2 linked regions of the Homo sapiens genome follow. The protein of the gene in region 1 purifies or fractionates together with the protein of each later gene. This does not show direct contact. Each region holds a gene or a part of one and is shown on either strand. Other genes may lie near its edges.

Evidence for each region. The genes of interacting proteins can lie anywhere in the genome.
Region 2: the proteins of NIM1K (region 1) and PDE6D purify together in Homo sapiens (affinity purification with mass spectrometry; one large-scale study listed by BioGRID and IntAct). This does not show direct contact.

What each region holds. Positions count from the first base shown.
Region 1 is NC_000005.10:43,190,997-43,195,024, reverse strand, and holds the start of NIM1K (serine/threonine-protein kinase NIM1), read right to left. Parts: upstream 2,801-4,028; 5' UTR 2,614-2,800; intron 2,174-2,613; exon of another isoform or gene 1,369-2,173; intron 1-1,368.
Region 2 is NC_000002.12:231,771,283-231,774,782, forward strand, and holds part of PDE6D (retinal rod rhodopsin-sensitive cGMP 3',5'-cyclic phosphodiesterase subunit delta), read right to left. Parts: intron 1-3,500. UniProt on the Homo sapiens protein: Promotes the release of prenylated target proteins from cellular membranes. Modulates the activity of prenylated or palmitoylated Ras family members by regulating their subcellular location.

The DNA.
Region 1 (4,028 bases):
GATTCAAAGAATGAAGTTGGATTTAATGTTATATTTTAATTTTTAAGTTTCTCAAAATGAAACTATATATGTGACAAAAACATTAACCTACTAAGACAAAAATCTTTGCTTTTGTTTTTTTAAAAATGTATGATAAGTCTGTCATGCACCTGTAGTCCCAGCTCCTCAGGAGGCTGAGGCAGGAAGATCCCTTGAGCCCAGGAGTTTGAGACATGCCTGGGCAACATGGCGAGACCCAGTCTCTAAAAACGAAAAGAAAATAAAACAAAACTGTAAGTCTGAGGGCTTCAAGCTGTCTAATCACATGCTATCAATGTTAGAATTTGAAGCTCAGAAATCGTGGATGTGTAATGAATTACGGTTCTTTAAAGAAACCAACATTTGCTGATAAAAGTATTTGAAATGGTACCACTGCTTGCCCCAAATTAAACCTTTTCAACTAAAAACCTAGGGTTAAACCAAGAATATAAAGGGCTCTATAACCTATCTGTAGTTATTACTGGGGAATTCAGATTTCATATAAACCTGTCTTTATTTTAAATGTAGTTAGAAAAAAAGCACACACCTCAAACCAAATATCCAATCCACATTTTTTCCTAACACAGAAGGAGGCTTCTCTGAAGGTTTTTCCAGGCTTACCATTTAACAGTGGTCCAGCTAAAAATAAACCCATGAGGGTTTACTAGGCAAATTCAATGGCACACCAAACACCAGTCCATGGGGAGTTGGATTCAGCTTTTTCCCCACTAGCCTCTCGCAGGAATCCCCCCCTACATTCTCCCATCTCCTAATTAGAAAGCTAATTAGGCTTCCAAATGTAAATGCTAAATGGCGAGGGCGATCTGGGCTCAGGCCAGGATTCGTGGAACATCTAACACCCTCCTCTGTCCTCTGTTCGTGCAGTGAGCTGTGGGAAGAGAGCTGGGCAGCATGACTATTTGGGGCCATTTAACTTGCTGGAGGGCAGTGTTTACTCTCATTTGTCTGAGCGGAAAGCTGTGTTGCATGGACTGCAAACTCTGAAAAAATAAAATAAAAAAAACAACAACATGCCTTGGGATTTTAGTACTTTAAGGGAAAAAGTAAGTACATTTTCATAAACTCAATTATTACCATGGTGACAACGAGGGTACAAGAGAAGGTCCTCTGGAGAACAGTTCCTGCTTCTAACTAGACAGCCTCTCAATAGAGCAGGGCGACTTCTTCAGTAACCATGACAACCAGAATTAGAAGTGCTGTTGCAACACTAACAGAAACCATCTTTTGAAGCGGTTCTGTGAATCACATTGAATACTGATGATGCAAGCTAGTGTGATACATACTTTTCAAACATTAAAAAAAATCTTATTACCATAAACAAATATTCACCTTAGATTTCCATTTGAAATCTTGACTTGGAATCACTTTTTTTCATCTGGTTTCGTTTGTTTCCCTTTTGGATTCCCGCGGCCTCAATTGCAAACGCGATTTGTGTAATTTCCAAACTTGTCAGAACTGCACGGGTAAGAGCTTAGAATGTGATTCATTCGCTCTTATTTTGAAACGGGATGAGGAATGGGGTGGGGGAGGGGGGGTAGACAGAGAGCCCTCTTGTCTACTGTACTCAGGAGGACGAAAACAGGGGAGGGAAGGGGAAAAGAGAGGAGAAAGGGAGAAAGGGAGGGAGGGAGGAGGAGAAGAGAAGGGGAGAGGAGGAGGAGGAAAGGAGGGAGGGAGAAGAGGGAAAAGGAGGGAAGGAGGGAAGGAAAAAACAGAAAGGAAAGAAGTGCTATAGCAGAATCTTTGCTGCCCATGTTATCTATTGCCTTGACTTCTCCATCTGCCAAGATGTGTCAAGCACGCAGAAGCTGGCTGGAATCGATATTTTAAAGACCCGGTTGCGATCTTTTCCTGGTCGTATCAAGGAGTCCTGGAGCTTCTAATATTCCTGGAGGGATATCCAGGAAGAGGAAAAGAGGCTCTTCCTTACTTCGTGCGGTCTTCCAAAAGAAGCACCTTTCGCTGGGGAGAGTCGCGGCGTGGGGTGCAATGGAAGGTTTTGTTCTCCTGGGCCACATGCGTTAGATGTCAGTTCTCTCCACCAGCAGCACCGGCCGGCGCGCGTGGGGAGATCACGCCGGTCTTCTGCCCTTGTAACAAACGCTCCAGATTTGGTCTGGTGCCTTAGGGCTCTGGTCCAGCGCACCCGCTGTGCGCAACGCTAGGCGCTAAGCTGCGCTCCTCGGCTCACGTGTGGACGCGCACGCAGACACGAGTGTCCACACCATACAGAGACATGGGTGCACACACGCGCGCACATAGACATGGGCGCCGCACATGACACGGGCACCACACATGACACGGGCACACACGCGCGAGCACGCTCTCGCCCTGGCTCTAATGCCCCCTCCTCTCGCTTGCGGATCGGCCTGGGCAGGTGTGGGGGTACGCCCCAGAAAGCGCCTAACCTTCTTCTGACCCCACTTCGCAGACACCCCGTGGCAGGGCTTCCTTTCTTCCTTGGGTCGCGGGGAGGAGAGGCGCCTCCTCCTCAGCCACCCAGGTCTGCAGCCTAGCAGAGGAAGGGTGGCGGGGTGGGGGTGCTGGCGGCGAGTCCCCCAGCCCCTCGCTTACCTTCGTGGCGAGGCCAGCTCTTGGGCTTCGCTGCACGGCGCCAGGCTAGGCGCGCTGGGTTGTTGCCTCTGGAGCAGGAGCGGTCGGTGTGTGGATGTCCCGAGGTGAGGGCGCCGCTGTCGCGCTTGAGGCTCCCGGAGCTGTCAGGGGCGGCCGACCTGACCGGCAGCGGCCCAGGGCAAACCCCGCCCTCCGGCCTAGGCCGGCTCCGCAGCGGGGACCGAGACGCCCCACAGCGTTTCCTGAAGGACCAATCCGGAGCGAGGGGCTGGCGTGGGGAAGGAGGGACGGGGGGCCTGTAGTGCACCCGGACGCCGGCCTGGACCTTGTAAGCTGGTTTCTATGGCAGCCAGGAGGGAGGGGCGAGAGGGAGGGGACGCGCGGCGCAGGGACACCCAGTGCAGTCGCTCGGGGAGGGGGGTGATTGGGCCTGACGCAAAGAGGACCCCTTCTAGAGTCTGGATGGGAGCAGCTACACGGCCGAAAGCGGGCTGACACAGCTCCCACCGACGTACGCCTCGTGCCGAGCGGTTCCAGCGCTTCAGCAAGGGTTTCCATGTCCTTGGGAAACCGTGACCCAGTAATCCTCCCAACAGAAAGGGGGTTTCCAGCAAACCACCGTGACAGCTCCTCCGGGTGAGTCGGGCAGGGTTTAGGTTCTGCAGAAAGAAGTGCTAATGTCACCCTCTGTCTGGATTCCTGGCATACATCGGTTCCCCTGGTGCCACTTTGTCACTGGCTCCCTAATCTCCTGCTAGGGAGATACTCTCGGCTGTGACCCTCAGATGCCAAAGATTATTTTTCTAGTTTATAAACTAGAAATACCGTCACTGGATTGAACGTAGAGTTGGAAATGGGATTCGCAAAATACTAAATAAAACATACCGGTTATTTACTGAAGTTTAAGCCCTTCCTTTTACAGAGAGAGAAAAAAAAAACTGAGTTCAGAGGGGTCAGTTAACTTAGCAAGGGTCACACAACTGATTAATGGCAGAGCCAGGACTAGACACCCTAAGTCATAGTTCTGCGAGCATTCTTTCTACTTCCTCCTGCTCTCCATCCTGTATTGATTGCCAGAGCAATATTTACAAGAGCAAAACTGTTAAGTAGCAACATAACCCATGTCTACAATTCTTTTATGGTAGAAACTAGGGAACCCCAAAATTCCTTTTTTGCTATTTGCCAGGCATTGTAATAAACTCTTTTACAAAGAGTAACTGATTAAATCCTCATGATAATCTATGGGTTAGGTACTGTTACTGTCATCCTTGTTTTGATAGATGAAGAAACTGAAGCCCAGAGAGGTTACAGGATTTGATCGAGATCACACAACTGTTGAATGCTGGCTCTGGGACTCTAACCCAGTTTGTTTGACTCCAGAGTTGGTGTTCTTCATTACTTTGTCTCTGCTGCCT
Region 2 (3,500 bases), on another chromosome or scaffold:
TTAAAACTCAAAATTAATAATACAACAACAAAAGAATAAATTCTCCAGAGAGGCATCATGGTATACTGTAGAAAACATGGACTTTTAAAAAGACAAAACAAGGCTTAAATTAAGGTTCTGCCTTCGTCTAAGTGACTGCCTCGTCGATCCTCAATTCCTTAGTCTATAAAGTGAGGATAACAATGAATAGGGTTGTTGTGATAATGCAGTAATATATCAAAGTTCTTTAAAAACCGAAAAGCAGTATAGAATTATGAGATATTACTAGACCATGCTGTTTCTTCTTGTGGCTATATTTACAGTGCTAATTTATATTACAGCTATTTATGTTTCATTCTCTAAATGTTATCTAAATTCAGAGGCAATAATTGCTCTCCTTGACTCTGAATCAGTTGTATCCACAATGCACTAAACCAAACACTTCAATACTGAGTGTCTCAGAGTTGTGTCAGAAACAAAAAGGAAACAATTGGGTCACAAAAAAACTTTTTGCCGATTTTAGGTGTAGAACATATCTCAATATAAACATTTGCCAAAAAAAGTACTTGTTAAGTAAGAAAGGCTGTCACCAAATCAAAGAATTGTAGTGCTGGAAAAGGATTTGAGTATTTCTGTAGATCATCTACTGTAATACACATTTGATACATACAAAATTTCCCTCTGCAACACTCTTGACAGACAGGCATCTATCTGCTGCTTAAAACACTTTCTGGAAAATGTCTTTTTTCAGGTAATTCTACTAATTGTTAGAAACTGGCCTAAACTCTGTCACCTGTAATTTCTACCCCGCAAATCTTGTACTTCCTCTGAGAGCTACACAGCAACATTTAATTCTTCCTCTTTAGAACAGTTGTTTTTTTTTTTTAACTTTAGAAGAGAATACTCATATCTCTTGTCCAACTCTTTTCATCTTTAGGTTAAACTCCCTTCAGTTCCCCCATTATTGAATGTATGCCATGTTTCAAGTGGCCCACCTTTATACCAGCTCCACTTTCCCCTGCCTCCCTTTGCAGTAGACTAAACAAGCTTTCATGTGTCCTACGGTGAGACCATCGCCTTCTTTGCCATAAACAGTAAGCTTTAGTCCAATCCATTGAAATCTTTGTGGATATTGGACTGTAAGAAATATATTTGCTTTTCTTCCCAGCTCCAAAATTATAAGCAGGTCAAAAGCAAAAAAGAATGCTGCTCTCAGAACTTTGACAATTTGAGTTTTACGCATTCAAGCAATTATTAGAATAGTCAGGCTGCTGGAGAAGATGGCCTTAAAATTCCTTCCTATGATGCTAGGCTTTAGCTCAGGAATAGAGAGGGATAGGTCTATAAGTCAAATCCTCTCATAACACGAGGATTTGTGGATGCAGAATGCTGACAAGTGAGGCCTGGGAGGCAAAACTGAGGTCAACCCTAGTAAGAACCTAGAGCTTCCAAGCCTCAGAACCATTGCTAGTCCTTTATCAAATGTAGTGGTGATACAACTGGAATTCTCCATGACAGTTTTACCGTGTTCTGTCCCATTTCTCCAGAAGTTACTGTAATGTTTCATTATAAACCATATACACAACCCTGGCAAGAAACTTAGAAAGTCAGTAGAAGACTATAAATATCTAATTATACACTAAATTCCTTCCAAAAAACAAAAGCAGGAATGCCTGTTTAAGAATCCTAAGTAAGGCCGGGCGTGGTGGCTCACGTCTGTAATCCTAGCACTTTGGGAAGCCAAGGTGGGCAAATCACTTGAGCCCAGAAGTTCAAGACCAGCCTGGGCAACATAGTGAAACCGTTTCTCTACAAAGAAAAAATACGAAAATTAGCTGGGTATAGTGGTGCACACCTGTGCACCCAGGCACTCAGGAGGGTGAGGCAGAGGATCATCTGAGCCTGGGAGGTCAAGGCTGCAGTAAGCTATGATAGCACCAGCCTGGATGACAATGAGACCCTGTCGCAGAAAAGAAAAAAAGAATCCTAAGATAATCAATAGGACATTATATTCATTTAATCCATTCAGGATAACAATACAAACTCTCAAGAGTCCATGCATGAGGAAACAAGCTACCAATCACAATCTACATGAAACTGGGCTTTATGAGTGGTATGTCTGGTTGCTTTCCAAGACTTTGGGTTGTCAGACAAAACCTATATTATGGGAAATAATAAACCTCAAATTCATTTTTAACATTTGGCCAAGGCAACTGTACCAGGGAATACTGACTTTCAAGAGAAGTTCTACAGTCGACTTTTCTTAATATGTCTACTATTCTTATTCTTTATTCTAAGTGAGTAAATAGAAGATGTAAAGCCAACTGTTTTTTGATTGGAAGCAAAGTCAAGGATTAAGGTACTATGAGAAAGAAGATACAGGGATTCCAGGACCAAACTATGGGAGAAGAAATGTAAGAAAACAAGTGAAAGATGCTTTCAGAAACCTTCTGAGCCCAAACTCTTTTTGCTAACCTGCCATAAATTAGAATGAGATTCATTTTCTAGACAAGATAAACATGAGGTATATATCAATGCTTATTGAATCATTTATTCAGAGGCAAAATGGAAATACGATAGTTTTTCAGTAAGAAAATATAACTAGAATGAAGGCATTAGTTATATCTCAGAGAAATAAGTAGCTTTACAATCATATTAACACTATTGTCATTATTATTATTATTATTATTGAGATGGAGTCTCACTCTGTTACCCAGGCTGGAGTGCACTGGCGTGATCTCGGCTCACTGCAACCTCCACCTCCTGGGTTCAAGCAATTCTCCTGCCTCAGCCTCCCGAGTAGCTGGGATTACAGGTGCACACCACTACGCCTGACTAATTTTGTATTTTTAGTAGAGACGGGATTTCACCATGTTGGCCAGGCTGGTCTTGAATGCCCAAACTCAGGTGATCCACCCACCTCGGCCTCCCAAAGAGCTGGGATTACAGGCATGAACCACTATACCTGGCCTGTCATTATTATTAGTAATTATTAATAAAATGAATGGCAGCAGATATTACTATATGCCAGGCCCTGAACCAAACATCTTTTATGCAGTTTCATTTAATTCTCAAAACAACCCTCTGATAATATGAGATACAGATGCTGAGGCTCAGAGTCTGAGTGTTCTGTTGAGAGTCACAATAGCAGAGGCAGTAAGTCTAAACCTTGGAAGTGAGCCCATACTCTCAACCACTGTGCTATATACTCTACTGCAGTAATGTGTAAACATTTGATAGATACCAATTACTTTCTACAGACACTACACACACACACATAAACCAAATGAGAGTGCCCCTTTCCCTCAATGTTGTGAACACTGAATATTATCTTTTTTTTTTTTTGAGACTGAGTCTCTCTCTGTCACCCAGGCTGGAGTGCAGTGGTGCAATCTCGGCTCATTGCAACCTTGGCCTCCCAGGTTCAAGTGATTCTTCTGCCTCAGGCACCCTAATAATAGCTGGGATTACAGCTGTCCACACCATGCCCAGCTAATTTTTGTATTTTTAGTAGAGACGGG